Homo sapiens: one gene and its partner. The protein of the gene in region 1 purifies or fractionates together with the protein of each later gene. This does not show direct contact. Each region holds a gene or a part of one and is shown on either strand. Other genes may lie near its edges.

Evidence for each region.
Region 2: the proteins of TRIO (region 1) and RPL22L1 purify together in Homo sapiens (affinity purification with mass spectrometry; 2 studies listed by BioGRID). This does not show direct contact.

The regions. Positions count from the first base shown.
Region 1 is NC_000005.10:14,146,342-14,153,341, reverse strand, and holds part of TRIO (triple functional domain protein), read right to left. Parts: intron 1-7,000. UniProt on the Homo sapiens protein: Guanine nucleotide exchange factor (GEF) for RHOA and RAC1 GTPases. Involved in coordinating actin remodeling, which is necessary for cell migration and growth. Plays a key role in the regulation of neurite outgrowth and lamellipodia formation.
Region 2 is NC_000003.12:170,865,249-170,877,022, forward strand, and holds the start of RPL22L1 (ribosomal protein eL22-like), read right to left. Parts: upstream 4,948-11,774; 5' UTR 4,920-4,947; coding exon 4,911-4,919; intron 3,143-4,910; coding exon 3,050-3,142; intron 2,954-3,049; exon of another isoform or gene 2,887-2,953; coding exon 2,765-2,886; intron 1,277-2,764; coding exon 1,132-1,276; 3' UTR 1-1,131.

The DNA of each region.
Region 1 (7,000 bases):
GAGCACAATTCCAAAGGTGCTATCTCATCCCACGTGACAGGGGTCCTGGCCTCTCTTGCTGCTCCCTGGCAGCTGCTGTTAAAGATTTAGAGGATAGCAAGGGTGTGGCAAGCATGGCCAGGGGCAGGCTGTTGCAAGGCTGCCATCCTACTTTCCAAAGCCTCCATCGTCCACTCTGCAGGTTATCACCGAAAATCTGTGTGATTCCACCTCAATCTTGCATGCCTTTCGAAGGCTTCCAGCTCTTTGGTTCAGTGGACAGCTTCCGTCTTACAAACAGGCTGAACCTTATGAGAATTCAGACTCCAGCAGAGTTGAGGCTGGCCCTAATAAACAATACCCATGAGGTATGAGAGAAAGGCCTAACAATGAATCCTGCAAATTCTGCAATTAAATATTGGAAAAGTAATATGTATACCAACCAACTAACAAAATTTACCTACTAACAACATTCTGGCACTAAATGACTCTACAGTGAAGCCCCTGCCATGAAGAGCTGCTCTCCTATGGGCAACCCATCAGGATGCACTGATCTGAATTGGCACGTGAGTAAAAGGTACAGCCTGAAACCATCAAATTAGCACCCGTTCTCCAGGCTCCTGGACCCAAGACATATTAGGGTAAGTGCAACAAAATTTAGATGGAGGTGAAGTGACTCTTAAAAAGCGTGAAATACGGACGCAGTGGCTCACGCCTGTAATCCCAGCACTTTGGGAGCCCAAGATGGGTGGATCACGAGGTCAGGAGTTCAAGACCAGCCTGGCCAAGATGGTGAAACCCCGTCTCTACTAGAAATACAAAAAAATTAGCTGGGCATGGTGGCGGGCGCCTGTAATCCCAGCTACTTGGGAGGCTAAGGCAGAGAACTGCTTGAACCCGGGAGGCAGAGGTTGCAGTGAGCCAAGATTGCGCCATTGCACTCCAGCCTGGGTGACAGAGCGAGACTCCATCTCAAAACAAACAAACAAACAAACAAACAAAAAAACTGAAATACATCCTGCCCCCATGCGATCTGGGTTTGTTTTGTTTTGTTTTGCTTTTCGAGCTAGTAATGTTCCCTTGCATGCCAGCTTTCATCACTCTGGTACTGAAAAGGGCAGTGAACGCTGGGAAGAATTTCTCATAATCATGAACTTAAATTTTTTAAAAAGCCACCTACAAATGAGAAATCTATTTGTTTACTATTAGACTAATGAGGGATTTATTCCAGTTATTTAGATGTCAAAATATTGGGCAATTTAAACTTTAGAGATTTTATTGTGTGAAGCTAGTTAGGTGGAAATATATATAACACTCCAGTCAAAGCATTGTTTTTCAATATTTGTGTGGTTCAGCTTCAGAATAAAAAACAGAGGAATTGTAGCTCTCGGTCCTTATCATTTAAAACTTAAACTAATAAAGTTATCTAAAAAACAACAGAATTTTAATGCTATTCCTGCAGGCCCTGGCATATCTGTCATGCAGAACAAGGATGAACTTAAAAAGTAAACACAAATAAGAAAATGCAAAACTTTCAGAATGCAAATGCCAAAGAGTGCCCTCTCACAGGTATCAGTGGCATCCTTCAATGGCAGCAGCAAAAAAGAATCATTGTGAACTTGAAAAAGTGGATGGGTCAATGCAAGAGGAAGCAAAGCAAAATGAATAAACAATGGAGATCAATTTATACACACACTGTTTTGGCCAACATCTTAACGACTTCTCATATGCACATCATTTTCAAATCACAATCTAAACATTTTGCCTGAAAGCATTCATGTCATTTATACATGTCACTTCATATATACTAGGAAACACGAGTTCTTTGAAAATAGATTTCAAGTATTAGTCTCCGATATATTCATTCATTCTTGCACTGAAACCACCTATTCCACAGAAATCCAAAGAGGGGTATTTTATGACTTTCCAAGAGATATACCTACATACATACATACACACACACACACACACACACAAACACACACACACACACAATGAAAAAACAGGCACCAACAAACCCCATTTAAAAATATTTTAGGATTATACGTGTAAATTTGAACTGTGTTTTTCTCAAGTTCATGCATAGTTTTATGGTTATGAGTCTTAAAAGTAGGTGGGGCTAACACTTCATAAATCCATTTATTAATTGTCAATACCGTGAAATAGGTAGCTGTCAATTATATACAAGAATGCCTAAGAACAGAGGGCAAATGACCTCCTATAGTTACTCATGTAGGAACGAAGCCCTCCAGATGAAACTAAACTTCTTCTTTCGCACCAGGAACTGTGAGGCGCTGAAGATCATCCTGCATGGGCCACTTGTCATCTTCGATCTGGACAGCAGCACAAATCATGGGAGTGGGAAATTTTGAAGCAGCAAAAATGGTAACTGTCTATAGCTAAAGATTATTGTAAGTCAGATTTGACTTATACACCAGATGGATTTCCAAATTAACACGTATTACAGAATCCCAGGAAAGAATCTTTATTTCCCCCTATCTATCTTTACCATTACCCTAGATCACCCCCGGGCAATTATAAGAAGCTAGGTCCTACATAGCAAAGTATGAACACAAGTATTACTATCTTTCAAATCGATATAAAATCTTTCCAAATTAACTCAATTTTGTTCAAGTTTACTTAGAGAATAATTACTTATATGAGCTTTGGCTTTTGTTGGTATCATTGGTTCTATCTGCATTTCCTCGATTATGAGTGAGGCTGAATATGTATTTTTTGGCCATTCATACTTCTTTTAATTGTTTGCCTATTTTCTTTCTAGATATGTCTTGTCTTAATTGATTTGAGGGAGCCCTTTACTAATTACATATATATAATCCTTTGATTTGTAATAGTTTTTCTCCCAGTTTATTATTGGCCTTTTTTTAATGTCACATTTTAAAATAACATATACAGTTAAACGGTGTGTGTGTGTTGTGTGCATGTGTGTAAAGGTCTGTGAATTTTAACACATGTAACTGCCACAACCAGAATACAAATCAGTTCCCCATCCTTCACCTGCCTCCTGCCCCCTTGTAGCCATACTCCCCCACCCCCTAACTCCTGGCAATCAATGCCCATCTGTTTTCTGTCACTACGGTTCTGTCTTTTTGCCAGTGTCATATAAAGGAACTCATACAGCATGCAGCATTTTGAGACTGTCTTCTCTCACTCAACATTAATGGAATGGCTGTACTATAGTTTGTGATCTATTCACACCTACACAGTTTCAATGCTAACAACAACAGACAGACAGCAAGGGGCCCCTTGGCCTTCCCTGCAGTAAGCCAGTAATGGAGCAGCACCAGCTCCCCCTCCTTTCAGGAAAGGGGTCCACAGAGCGGCCAGGACAAATCTGCTGCCACTCACTGAAATCCCTCCCCAAGAAAAACCTCCTGCAATTCATCCCTGTCCATAGCAGGGCTACAGACTGTGAGAAAACAAGCCTGATCAACTCACGTGGACACCACAAAGTCAAAGTACCCTAGACCTAGAATCCAGTCTTTGTGTTGAGTAAGTTTTCATGAAAGCTTTCTCTGTCAGTGTAACTGCTAAAATGCACTCATTGATGACAAAGCCCAAATAGGAAGATGCCTCCAAAACACCAGCTCTAGACTACTCTACAATCCTCCCCCATCAGACAAGAGTAGACATGTGGCTAATGAAAAGAGCCAGTAATCTAAAACTCAAGTATGTTCATCACCAAAACGAGGTTTTACATTTCCACAGCCCCTCTGCCATCAAATGGCACAGGGAGAAATCTCAGAGGTCAATGCCCTCTGCCCCCCGCTCGTAGCCTCACTCTGGTTTGCTCTCTCTTTCCCCACATACAACCTTTCCCGGGGGGCAGGTGATTAGTAATTTGGGTTTCAAGGGGCTTCCTTATGTGGAGAGGGGACAGAAAAGAGGAAATTAAGGTAACAACACAACTATTCAGTAAGCAAATTAAGTGTTTCCATGAGTGAATGAGAAGCGAAAATGAGTGTTTATGCACTTGTTAACCATTAAACATGAGAGCAAGATTCCCCAAAAGCAAGACTGTCTGCACAGAAGGCTCAGTAACATCAAAAAGCTGGGAGTCCTCACTGGACAATCTAGCCAGGTATCTCTCTTTGAGATTTACGAACTAGCAGGGAGCTGGGCACCTTGGCAGTGAGAGCGAAGTCCTGTTCTGCGGGCACAGGGGGAGGAGACCAGGGGTCCAGCAGGAAGCCAGCAGCACATGCAGGGCCCCGCAAGCCTCTGACCACTCCTCTATGCTCCCTTCCCCTCAGTTCAGAGGCACAGCAATAGGAATTCCCAGAACAGCTCCCGCTGAGTAACAGCAGCCAGAATTCCCAAGTGCAAGGGTCACTGGGAAGTCTCCCTGTTCATTCCCTCTCCCAGTGGCCCACTGAACAGCGCGTCAGCAGAACTGGAATAGGACGAAGAGAACCCTGTGGATGCACATCGAACCCGCTTACCCCTTGCTCCAGCTGGGGACCCAGCCTGGTCCCTGCAGCCCATTAATTAAAATGAGGCTGAGAAGATTCAAAAGACAGCATCTCCATCCACCAGGCCAACCACACCATCACCCTTGTCAGTTTGGCCAAGTCTACGCAGCTGAGTACTTGGAAGAAATGGGAGGATGAGGTCAGAGCACGCACTTTCCACCAGAATACACTGGGATTCTCCCGCAAATCCAAGTCTTCACTGTCCAGGGAGTCGCTACTATTTCCTGCCAGTGGCGCTGTTAAAATTTTGTCAAGACAATGCACTTAAGGAAATAAAAGCCAATTCATTATAGAATTGAGGAGGAATGGGGGCAGGGTGTTATCACTGCTTTTTGTAGTAAAACACAGCTCATCCCTATCAATATCAGTGAGTTTACTAGGCAGTAAAGTGTGGCTATTGATTAAGAATTAGACTTTTCTCTGGAATTCTGCCAAGGTTATGAGATAAAATTTTATTTTCTCGATAGTCAAGTAAATAAACAAAGTAAATATTGAATACAGCTGACTTAGATTATGACAGCTTCAAACACATCTTTCACCTGCAGTTCAGAACAAATCTCAACTTTATCGTAACATTTAAAAGGTCAAAAAAGGCCACTGAAATTACATATTTTTAGGGTACATTTAGGAAACATATGTAAACCACATGCTTCATTTTGAACACCACCACCGGCTTCATTTAAATCTGGTTAATCATTTAAATGGTGGAAATGGCTTCTTTAAATTTTCATTTGAATCTTAAATAGTTAAATTGCAAAGGGAAAAAATACAATATCCCACATCAATATGTCGGTTTACAAGGTCTCAATGAAAAGCTTCTTTCAGTGATGACTTTACTGCACTTCTTTGATTCCTCGAAAGTCACTTACAGGAATTTTAGAAATCTCCTTGCTTTCCTCTAAAACTGACTGTGCCACCTAAAAAGGAGAAACCAACATTCACTATCAAATTACATTTCCTTCAGTTTCTATTTTTGAAATATTGAGGGTAACAAGGACCCACTTTGTAATACAATCATTATTGGTGCTCACAAGGACCAAAGCTGCCAGGCTTCTCAATACCAACAGAAGTAGCACAGCCCGCCCCAGGCCAACTACCTAAGTGGCATTCAAGGTATAAATATGAAGAAAAGCTTCTCTCAATACTCCACAAGGAAACCGTCATATCAAAATATATAAAAGTATGTGTGCTTCTCCCTAATAGACTTGATTTTCTTCACCTGTTCCCTGGAAAGACAGGGGCTGCAGGAGGAGTCGAGTAAGATTTAATAATGAAAGAAACCAAGCACGACAGGACGTGATGCTTCAGAATAACTACAAACCTTTATTCTCCAGATATTCATTTAACGCCAACCTAAAGCGTGCCAGGCAGGTTAAAAATACTGCATTTATGTAAGCACCTCCACCACACACACACGCTCTCACAAGGTTAAATAGGGAGCTCTGAAAGAATGATTTATTGCCACGAGAACAGAGCCCCAAAATAGATTGGCAATAAAAATGATTGGTCCCAGTGGGGTTGAGAACTAATGTAAGCAACGTCCTGGCTATGAGAAGCGACCAGGAAAGAGCACCAGGGACCAGGGCCCTGACTCTAACTCTACCCAAGTTCCACTCTGGGGGGCAAGTCATGAAACCTCCCTAAGGCTGATTCCTCATCTGTAAAATAAAATTAAAACAAGGCTAGCTCATTTTTGTGGTGTCTTTTTTTTTCTTTTTGCTCTTGCATTGAAATTGGTTTTACTGTGCTGAGCTCTGTGCAAAGGAGAAAAGTGAAGTTTGAAATTCACTAACACCTGCAGAAAATCTCTTACTGCTCTTTAACACACAAGCACCAGGACTTGACTCACATTATTACAACTCAATCCACTTGAACACTAATTGGCCTGCCTGCTTCATGCCAGGTCTATAAATAGGTGATCAAAATGATCATCAAAATGAACAGGGAGTGCCAAGGTCCTGAGCAGAGAACGGAATGACAGCAAAGGAAATGAGACCTTGGGTGAGGTGAACCCTGGGTGGACGCTCAGCAGAGGAGAAGGGCACCAGGGCTCTGGAGCCCTGAACTACCCAAAGAAAAGCGGAGAACAATGATTAGGCACTGAGGACTCAGAGAAAGCCAGAGTCCACAGGGAAAGGGGAACAGCCCCAAGGTCATCTCCCGGACCCCTCTCCAGGGCAGCAGTCCTGTCCCCTGAGCCCAACTCCAAACCCTGCCAGGTGACAGCACCTTTATGTGAGCACTTCCAGTAATGGAGAAATCACAGGACTGTTCACTCTATTTCTGAACTTCCCTTAATTGTTTAAAAGTTCTATTAAAGTCTTCTCTTTCTTTCATCCAACCACTGGTATTAGTTTTCAATCTGTGGCTACAAAGACAAAGCCGAATGCGGGCAACAAGAACGAATTTAAAAAAAAGAAAGAAAATCAGGCAGCCATGCAAACAGAGTTTCAGGGCTGAGAAAGGAAAGGCAAGCAATGGAAAGCCTTTGTCTAAGTCAGGTTGGCACTTTTAGTACCAGGCTCAAA
Region 2 (11,774 bases), on another chromosome or scaffold:
GATTAGGTTGTAACTGTCCAGATATGTTTGGCGACACAATTCTATTAGCATCAAGACTCATCTAAGTACCTGAAGTAGTGGCACCACCATCAGGCTCAGCAGTACAAAAAGGCACATCATTCTTGTCCTCCCTAATCTCCTGCAGTATGGATTTTGCCAAACCATTTCGATTAGAGCTTTCAAAGGCCAGTTTATTCGGGAGAAAGGGTCCATCCACTTGTAAGTTTCAATAGACAACCAACACGCCGGTGTTGGGGTAGGGGCTTTTGAGAAAGAGATGAGGATGCTCTGAGACAAGATTCCAACCGAGTGAACTAATTTTTTCAGACAAGGACCACAGTAGATTCTGTAGCTGAGTTGAGATTTGGTTTTGAGTTTCTGGTGCCTACAAAGCAGGTGGTTAGGGCTTTCTAATAAGCAGTTTAACATTGGTTTACAGCAGGCCTCACACCCAGAGTCTTTGGGCTAACTATAAGAGCAAACTACAGAGCAACTTATATGTAAGAACTGTTCTAAGCACTTGAGATTACATTTACAAGCTATTAAAAACAGTATTTGAGACTGTCAAGACAATCATATACATTTTATACAGCTATATAAAAAATTGTTCTACAGTAAGATTTCCTGGCCGGGCATGGTGGTTCACAGCTATAATCAGCACTTTGGGAAGCCGAGGTGGGTAGATCACTTGAGGTCAGGAGTTTGAAACCAGCCTGGCCAACATGGCCAAACCCTACTCTACTAAAAGTACAAAAAATTAGCCGGGCATGGTGGCTCACACCTGTAATTCCAGCTATTTAGGAAGCTGAGTCACTGCACTCCAGCCTGGGTGACAGAACGAGAGTGTCTAAAAAAAAGATTTCCTATATAACGCTACTTTTACCTGAGTACATAAAAGATTTTGGAAATCGTGGGAAAAAATTATACCAGCTATAAGCTATTTAAATACTGTTGATAGTTATCAGAGGGAAATCAAAATCATATAAACAGCATACTCAAAAAAATGAGACAAAAGTTCAAGAGTATAATATTTTTTATTCACTGATAAACTAAAAGCCAATTTCTTGGTATTTCTCATGTATACTTCATTTATTTTATTAATAAGCAAAGCCCTGTAAGGGGAGCCTTTGCCTAGTCCTCCGACTCTGATTCATCTTCATCTTGACTAATCTGGAAGTAACGAAGTTCGTAGGTCTCCTTGTCAGATGCAACCACTCGAAGCCAATCACGAAGATTGTTCTTCTTAAGGTATTTCTTGGTAAGGTATTTCAAATACCTTTTAAAATAAAAACATAAATTTCATTAAGAAATACAATTCCTACTATGTAAAGGTTTACTATACGAAAAATATACATCATCATATTCATCTTTTCTGTACCTAGCTTCCTCCAAAATATTTCATCCTTCCATTCACAGGATGTATTGTGTAAGACTGTTAGGGTAGCATCCTCTTGTCATACTGCCACACTATATATTGTTCAAGATTGTTAGGGTAGCATTCTCTTGTCAAACTGCTACAGCCAAATTATTTAAGCAATATGATTTCACTCTTCAAATATATTATCTGTGTATATATATGTGAAAACGTTAACACCTCCTTCACCACTATCAAGCCCCCTAGCTCCCAATCCCACCCCGGCTCAACAGGCAACCTATTAATAATAGGGTTAAACCCATACTATGCTCATTAAGTCTCAACTTCTCTGAAAATTCTTGGGCTCTCTCTACATCTAATGTAACTAGAGTTGTATTTTACAATAATTATCTGATTATCTGTAAGATACTTGATTTACAGCTACTACAGCTACTACATTTTTATCTCTGAATCCTTAGTGATTATAATCTCAGTTAACATGTACTGCAACCACTTTAGTCCAAGCCATCATTGTCTCTCACTGAAATTAGCTCTTACATCTTCAGTTTCCACCAGATGTATCACCCTAGTCTTTTTCAGCCACAATAAACAATTGCTTCCCATTACACATCCCATGGCTTTCAAGATCTGCTCCCCAGACACCCTCCAATCTCATGCATTCCTCCCAGAACACTATACCCCAGACACACTGGCTTTGTTACTATTACTTTAATCTGCCAGGCTTCTGGTTCATCCTGCCTGTAACAACTGCAAGGCTCACTTCTGCATTTCATTTCCTGACCAACTTACCAACGTACCCAAAAACTCTGCAACTAGTTTTATGCCCTTACAGCACTTATCACTGCTTGATTAATTCCATTTCACTCTCTCTTCTCCACTAGAAGTTTCTTGGTGGTGGGTAAACTGCCTGCTTGGTTCACTGTTGGGTTACCCAGTCCTGTGCTGCCCATGTAGTATTTAATATTTGGTGAATAAATTCAACAAATAAAAACTGGCAGCAAGATGTTAAGACTTTGACTTTAACTGGCTACCTCTACTGAATAAATAACTTGAGACAATTCTCCTATGTACACATCAGACATGTTTCTTGCAACATACTCAAATACTAAAGTACTCAGCATTAAAGGTTATATACAATTTGGATTTACAGGGCCTATAATTTACTGGACTGGGACTGTGGACACAACTGGCTCATATTCTAGCAATAAATGACACTTACAACTAGACTCAGCAATTGGCACTCATTTACTGAATTTCCCATTTATGTAGGCCTTTAGTCTAAAGTTCATATTTATTCTTGCATATAAACAGAATACATGTAATAACTACATATTCTATGAAATATTCCAAAACTACTATAGTTTTATTAAAATTTGCAAAAGTACCAACCTTTTAGAGAACTGTTTCTCAGAAACAACTGTGATTTTATTCTTGAAGCGTTCAATGTGAACAACATTCCCGAGATTTCCAGTTTTGCCATTGACTTTAACCTTCTCCCGTAGAAATTGCTCCTATTTTAAAACAGAAAAAATGCAAAACTAGGGAAGAGAACCCTAGATATTCACTAGGGAAGGTACCCTAGGAATAGAGCTTAGGTTATTATCAAATACTATATATTTAAACCATTATCAATAACTCTGATTACAAAAATAAGCCGAGTAGAATGATACTTACAAAATTTCCAGAATCAAAAATTCCATCTTCTACTGGATGAGTAAGGTCCAAATTAAACCTCCAGGTTGACCTCTTGGGCTTCCTGTCTTTCTGCTACATAAATGAGAAATAATTATGTAGCTATATAAAACAACTTATTCAATTTATATAAACAATTTTAAAGTTTGTACCAATGCAATCTGTACAATGTACTGTTAGGTTACATATACAGAAATGTAACAATAAATAAAAAAACACCACCACTACCCACGCCGGGGTTGATTTGAACCTCTAACCAAGTCCTAATATGTTCAAGTTGTCAAAAAGTTACGGACTTTCATTGTTTTCTATACTACCAATGATCAATTTTAAATTATCGTGCTTTTCTGCCACCCCACTGCAGATGGGAATAGGTTAGTATACTGCCTAGCCCAAGCTCAGGTAAGTGCCAGAGCTAGGATTCCACCCACCTATGTCTAGAAAATTCAATTCTTACGTTATTATAGGCAAGGGAAGGGGACTTTGGTAAAAAAAAAAAAAAAGAAAAGAAAAGAAAAAGAAAAAATAAAAATAAAAAAGGCAAGGTGCCGTCCCAGCACTTTGGGAGGCTGAGGCAGGAGGATCACGTGAGGTCAGGAGTTCAAGGCCAGCCTGGCCAACATGGTGAAACCCCATCTCTAGTAAAAATACAAAAATTAGCCAGGTGTGGTGGTGCATGCTTATAATCCTAGCTATTCAGGAGGCTGAGTCGGGAGGATTGCTTGAACCCGGGAGGCGGAGGTTGTAGTGAGCCTGATCATGCCACTATACTCCCACCTGGGCAACAGACTCTGTCTCAAAAAAAAAAAAAAACCTAAAAACCAACACCGTGGAACTTAAATTTTCCATATCCAAACCTTTTATACCAAGACCATATAATATGGCTACATAAGCAAAATGTTACTGTGGCCAGCAACCATGTACATTCACTGCAATATGAACAAACAAATCTGTATTTATCAGACTATAACCTCCAATTTAGATTCACCCAAGTGGCTACCAAGTATTACACATTAGTTTGCTTTCTCAGGTAGCATGGTAACATGTGCCAAAAGATAATTACCCAGTTGGCGCAGAAGTTAATTTGGGAGACACAAACAACTTCTGTCTAATGGAACAGATAACCCTATAGGGTTTATGGCCATGCTGGGCATTACCCAGTTTTGTAGCTAGCCCAGCAATTTTATCCTAACTTTATTTGTAAATTGCGCATGTATATCTAGCTTTTCAGATATTCTTAGGAACATTTTAACATCTTACTGGTTCCCTTACTAATGACTTAAGTAAAACATCTGAAGCACGTTTATTTCACATTGCTGGAATCTAGACTTATACTTTTCTAAAAATTACTTCACCGAGAAACTTCTTCCCCAACTGAAAGTTCTCAAAAACTTGTGATGTCGGCCATCGCGGGAGCTGAGCGCCTAGGAGCTCCCTCTGGCCTGGCAAAGGTCGTCAGACCGGCCCGATTACCCACCATTCCCCTACCCAGTGCTGAGTGGCAAAAGCATTATCAGGCGCGAGATAGTAAAGAAATGGCTCAGATTGCAGTACCACCGGCCCATTTACAGTTGTGCCTCCCTCTTTCCCGCGTGTCCAAAACCACCCATCCTAAACCAATTCCGGGCCCAGCTCCAACTCCACTAGACCTCATGGCAGCTGCCAGGGAGTCTCGAAAAACAGTTCAGGATCCTCGCGTCTTGGTTGTGTTTCTGACCCAGACTTCACTACTCCCCTCCCTTTATCTTGACTGAGACGTCTCCACTCGACAGATGCAAAAATCGTTACAGCGGAAATCATTAAATTGCCACACAACACTCCCACCAAGACATCGCTCACTCACCGGCGCCATCTTGCGAGTCGGCCGCGAGAGCAGAGAGGAAGCTACGGCCGCGCGGTCTGCATTTATATCAAAGCGTGCTGCGTCACGCGCTGAGAGCGTCAGATTGTCGCCTCCCGGAAAAGAAAGCGGGAGGAGCGCTGAGGCCGGTAACCCAGGAAACCAGTGCGCTGCCGGACGAGAGTAGGCCATCGGCTTTCCGCGGGCACACGCGGGTGGCTGTGGTTGAACTGACTCTCGGGTTTCCGCTCCTGGCTGTTCAAGCCGATTAATTGCAGTGGCCTCTACAGTTACCTAGTGGCTGCTCCCGGATACGGACGCACGCGAGGGATGCAGGAGTCATCTTTCACTAATCACCGGAATCCCCTTTCCAATCAGGGCAAGGCAGTGTCTCAGGTTGCTTTGGGATCTCCTTTTATTGCAGTTATAATCCTCCAGCGAAAAAGTTATTTGTTTGTGTTTTGTCTGTGAGCCTCGTTTTCTAAATGACTGTTGAGGGAAATTGGTGCTTCGGGGACCAGGTCCTCGGGAAAAAAAAATCATGTATATATATGCTTACACGCCCACGCCTGTAATCCCAGCACTTTGGGAGGCCGAGGCCGGAGAATCTCTTGAGCCCAGGAGTTCGAGACCACCCTTGGCAGCGTAGGCATAGGGAGAACCCGTCTCTACAAACAATTTTAAAAAAAATGGCCCGCGTGGTGGTGCGCGTCTGTACTCCCAGCCACTCGGGAGGCTGAGGCAGGAGCATCGCTTTACCTTGAGAGGCGGAAGTTGCAGTGAGTCGAGATCGAGCCACTGCACTCCAGCCTGGGTAACAGTGAGACTGTCTCAAAGGGAAAAACACGTAGTGCTTGCTTCTTGTTCATTCGTTTGGTATAATTTATCATGGGTTTTACAGTTAATCCCAGGTCTCTTGATTTCCATCCAAAATGCTCCCAGTTAAAATTCAATGAATGTTTGCTGTGACCTATCAGTATGTACAAGACACACGAGGGTGGAAGTGTCTTGCTGACAAAAGGAAAAAGTAGCTTTTGAGCTTTGAAGGATTGTAAATTGACATCAGATCCGAAAAGTGGCATGCTGAACCGCTTGGGTTTAGCAGTAATATGTTTTCGTGGAGATGAAATTATCATACCTAGGGGTAGGGGTAAGGGATGGGGTGGACTTTGTTGTTAATTTGAAGAATGACCCCAGAAAGTAAGAACTGTTCGTGGCCTTTATGCCAGCAAGTAGTTATCGTGGAAACTATGCTTTAATAGAGCATATGACTTGTAGAGTCTGAAGAGAGGCCCTGAATTCCTAGAAGAAATCCATTTCAACAAGATTTTTTAGTTGTCTGCCTTAAGAGCTACAATAATCACATTTCTCTTTCCAAACATTAAAGGGAGCAATTGGCATTTCCTCCTCAAGGGCTGCCTAAGCTGAGGGGCAGAAATGATTCTATTTTGCTTGTCTTTAGCAGTCTTCCATGTCTTGACAATAAACTCCTTAAGCACTATTAAGCCATTTGTACAAGGAGGATATGGAAACATACCTGTTTCACAAGAACTAGTAATCACCAAATAACTAGTTAGAAACTGTAATGGGGGAAAAATGTTTGTCAATTAGAAAAAAAAACAAGAATATTAGCGAGAAATGTGCAGATGGGAAGACTAAAAGTTGTAAATAATTCAGTTCTTCCCAAACTGTGCGTGTGCACACGTATATAGTAACACAATGCTAGTCAATACCCTATAGTTATTTTTTAAAAATTTGACAGCTAATTAAAAAAATTTTAACATTTATTTTAGATTCAGAGGGTACATGTACAGTTTTGTTACATGAATATATATAATGATGGTGGGGTTGGGGTGCGATTGATCCCTTCACCCAGGTAGTGAAAATAGTACCCAATAATTAGATTTTCAACCCTTCCCCACTTCTAGTATTCCCAGTGTCTATTTTTGCCATCTTCATGCCCATGAGTATCCAATGTTTAGTTCCCACTTACAAGTGAGAAGTACAGTATTTGATTTTCTGTTCCTGCATTAATTCGCCTAGGATAATGGCCTCCAGCTGCAGCCATGTTGCTGCAAAGTATGTGATTTTGTTCTTTATGGCTTGTGTTGACAGCTAATTCTAAAACGTATGACACAATAAATGTCTGAAAAGAGCCAAGACACTCTAGACCAATGAAAGGGAGTATGCCTTTCCAGCTCTTCCAATATAAGATATAATAGATGATAGATATGTATTTAATATATTATAAACTTCAGTCATTGGATCTACATGATGCTGAAGCCTTAGTAAACAGATCAGTAAGCAAAAAAACACAGAAAAACCCCTCCATATGTAACTACCTTACCAATGGCTAAAATATAGTTTTATTTTTATGTATGCATTTATTTATTTTTTAGAGACATAGTCTTGCTCTGTCGCCTAGGCTGGAGTGCAGTGGCGCAATCTCAGCTCACTGCAACCTCCGCCTCCCTGGTTCAAGCAATTCTCCTGCTTCAGCCTCCCAAGTAGCTGGGATTACAGGCGCTTACCACCAGGTATGGCTAATTTTTCTATTTTTACTAGGGTTTTCGCCATGTTGACCAGACTGGTTTCGAACTCTTGGCCTCAACTGATCCGCCCACCTTGGCCTCCCAAAGTGCTGGGGTTACAGGTGTGAGCCATTGTGCCCGGCCTAAAATACAGTTTTATAAATAATTTTTTAATGTATGGTTGAGCTGGTGGAAAAGTAAAATAATTTTTAGGGGCAGAAATGACAAGCAATGATCATACATGTTTGGAACTTGAATTAGCTCTGCTCAGATAGCATGAAAAAGCTCCAAACTGAATATGTAGTTTAAAGTGTGCTTGTATTATTAACACCAGACAGAAGCAAGGGCAAATACTCTCTGGAGAAATGCATTTTAGATCCAGGTACAAATAATTCCCTGAGATAAGCTTCAAGAAATATGAGCTGACAGGTTTTGTTTTGTTTTGTTGAGATGGAGTCTTGTTCTGTCGCCAGGCTGGAGTGCAGTGGCAAGATCTCAGCTCACTGCAACTTCTGCCTCCAGGGTTCAAGTGATTCTCCTGCCTCAGCCTCTCGAGTAGCTGGGACGACAGGCGCACCACCATGCCAGCTAATTTTTGTATTTTTAGTAGAGACGGGGTTTCACCATGTTGGCCAGGATGGTCTCGATCTCTTGACCTCGTGATCTGCCCGCCTTGGCTTCCCAAAGTGCTGGGATTACAGGTGTGAGCCACCGTGCCCGGCAGAGCTGACAGTTTTTTAAAATCATGAAAATACAGGAAAACAAGCCACCGTGGATGAAAATCAACATCAAAAACCTATGAAATCAGACTCACAGAGACTTTATATGTTGGAATTATGAAATGCAGAATATAAAATAAGTATTTGTAGTATATGCAAAAACTAAAAGTATTTAGGATATGATAAGGAAGTCAGAGACAATCAAAATTGATCAGATTTTTTTTTTTTTTTTGAAAAACAGCAAAAGGAGACCGGGCACGGTGGCTCAAGCCTGTAATCCCAGCAGTTTGGGAGGCTGAGGTAGGCAGATCACTTGAGGTTAGGAGTTCGAGACCACCCTGGCCAACATAGAGAAACCCCCGTCTCTACTAAAAATACAAAAATTAGCTGGGTGTGGTGGTGATGCCTGTAGTCTCAACTACTTGGGAAGCTGAGGCAGGGGAATCACTTGAACTGGGGAGGTGGAGGTTGCAGTGAGCTGAGATCATGCCATTACACTCCAGCCTGGGCAACAGAGCAAGACTCCGTCTCAAAAAAAAAAAAAACAAAAAAACAAAAGAGAACATTTAGACATTAAAAAGAGAAAAACTGAAATTAGAAAAAGTAGATGAGTTAAACAAGAGAGTAAACAGCTGAAGAGAAATCAGTGAGTGGGAAATTACTTAGAATGCAATGTGGAAAAGCAAATAGATGTAAGGTATAAAAAACAGGTTAAGAGACCAGGATGTCAGAATAAAAGTTTTCTGGATATGTCAACCAGGAGATCCAGAAGGATGTAATAGAGACAATGGGGAAATGGCAAAATCTAGAGAGATAATGGCTGAATTTCCAGATACAGGAATCCCCAAGAGGGATAATTTTAAAGAAATGCACACCTATATACATTGTAGTGAAACTTCAAAACACAAAGTCATTTCAAAAGCACCCAGAGAAGGAAAAGACAAAATATTTACTAAATGACTTATACTAATAGCTGACTTTCCATCTGCAACAATGGAAGCCGGAGGCAAAGGAATATTATCTGCAGAGCACTGTGAGAAAATAACTGTCTACCTAGAGCTACAAAAAACAAAACAAAACCAAGAATACATTTCAAGAGTAAAGATGCATTTATGACATTTTTAGGCCACAAAGCTGAAAGTTTGCCATCAAGAGCTCTTCAGTAAAGGAATTCTGAAAGATATACTTTAGGAAGAAGGAAAATGACCCTAGAAAGAAGGCTTATATGTCAAAAGAAATGGTGAGCAAAGAAAATAGCAAACTTGTGAGTAAATCTAAACAACTACTAACTGTAGACAATAGTAATAATTATGTCTAATTTGTGGGTTCACAGAACTTTTTTAAAAAACTCAATATCATAGGCAGATTATGTACTGTTAATGTTGTATTTCTTCATCTTGGTGATATTTACATGGGTATGTTTACTTTGTGAAGACTCATCAAGCTGTAAATTATAATCTGTTCATTTTTTCTGTATATATGTTATAATTCAATTAATAGTAATAAGATAGTATAAACTACCACTTGCCAATATATGGCAAATTAGATAAAATGAGCAAATTCCTAGAAAAATACAGTTTATCAGAATGTACACAAGAAGAAATAGAATATCTGAATAGTCCTATATCTTTTAAATAAATTGCATTTGTAATTAAAACCTTCCCACAAAAAAACCATAGGCAGATTATATACTGTTCATGTTTTAGCAGTGAATTCTACCAAACAATTGAGGAAGAAACAATGCCAGTTGTAACAATTTTATGCCAAAACTCACATTCTGCCAGTTTACCTTTTAATTCAGGGCAGGGGAGAATTTATCTACAGCTTCCTGTCCCCTGCTGATAAATGTTTGTCTTTGGCTTGTTAACTCCCTTGCATTTTCAGGTTGTAAATATATAAGTGGGTATCTGTAGGGAGGTTCCCACAGGTGTCCCATGCTTCATGTCAGAGAAGCCATGGGGTAGAAGGTGAAATATATGCGGGGAGGTGCTGTCAAGTTACGCCTGCATGAAACTGGTTGCTGCTCCTTTCTTTCTTTTGATTGGACGGTTTAGTGCATTCTATATTACTACATGAGAGATTCCAGAAGAATTAAGCCTCGGTTGTCCCCAGCACATTTCTGTTTGCTTTTGTTCTTTCCAAGTTTCATTTTTCCTGGTTTCTTCTGTTACCTGAGATCACTTCCTAAATAAATCAACTACATGCAGCCAATAGGCTAAGAAACCAATTTACAAACTCTCTGGGCATATTAGAGACATTCATCAACTTTTTAATGAGGCCAGCATAACTTTGATATTAAAACCTGACAAGGACATTTTGAGAAAGGAAAATTATACCCCAGTCTCATTCATGAATATATATATATATATTCTATATATATGTGTATATATACAACATACTATAGTCACAGATAAATATTTAGCAAACCATATCTAACAATATATCATTAGATTATTTACAATCATTCATAAATATATCCATAATGTAAGTATCTGTGTATTTTGAACTATGAAAAAATGCTGTGACATTTAGGCAAATAGTACTCTAAACAGAATTCTCTGTTGTGGTCCTTTTATATGTCATACATCTTGTCTTTCTGCAGCTCTGTATCTGTCCTGGGTTTGTGCATCACACAAGGTTTCTTACAGGAGCAGATGGTTCACCTTATTCTGTAGTGTTGTCTTTTGGAAGACCTCAGCTCTGCTAACAGCACAAAGGATCACACTGTAATGTAGAAAGTAGACAATGTGTGCATCTCTGAAATATACTTGTTATTAAAACTCATCTGTTTTCTTTTTCATTTTCTTTTTTTCTTTTTTTTTTCTTTTTTTTTTTTTTTTTTTGAGATGGAGTGTCACTCTGTCACCCAGGGTAGAGTGCAGTGGTGCAATCTCGGCTCACTGCAACTTCCGTCTCCCGGGTTCAAGCGATTCTCCTGCCTCAGCCTCCTGAGTACCTGGGATTACAGGTGTGTGCCACCATGCCCGGCTAATTTTTGTATTTTTAGTAGAGACGAAGTTTCACCATGTTGGTCAGGCTGGTCTCGAACTCCTGACTTCGTGATCCACCCGCCTCGGCCTCCCAAAGAGCTCATCTATTTTCTAGAAGCTGATTTGGAAAAAAAAAAAAAAAGAGAAGTCTCTAAATTACCCTTTACCCAAACTTCCAGTCATCAAAGTTACCACTGTTTAAGTATTGTAAAAAAATATATATAGATTTTATATGTGTAGCAAACAGCATTCTATTTCTTTCTGTGCCATGTGCTACAAAGTGGAGCGTGTTGAGCATCATGAGGCATTGCACTACCATTTCCGGGAAAATATACTTTAATGACATTGAAGTGCAAACAGTCTCATGGAAGCAAACTGTGCAGCTTTGGCTAAGAATGGGCTGAAGCCCTGTGCAAACAACAATGAGATACTGAGGACAATCTTAAAAGTACTGAAGAATATTGCTTTTAAAATCCCAAACCTATGTATAGTTCTTTGTTATATACTCATTAATGAAAGCTAAGGGGACCAGGGAAGGGAAATAGGGACTTAAGTTACTGCTGCTTGCCTTTTCTTTACTAATTAGATTCAAGAGCATTAAAAACTATGATTAAAACGTGTACGCTT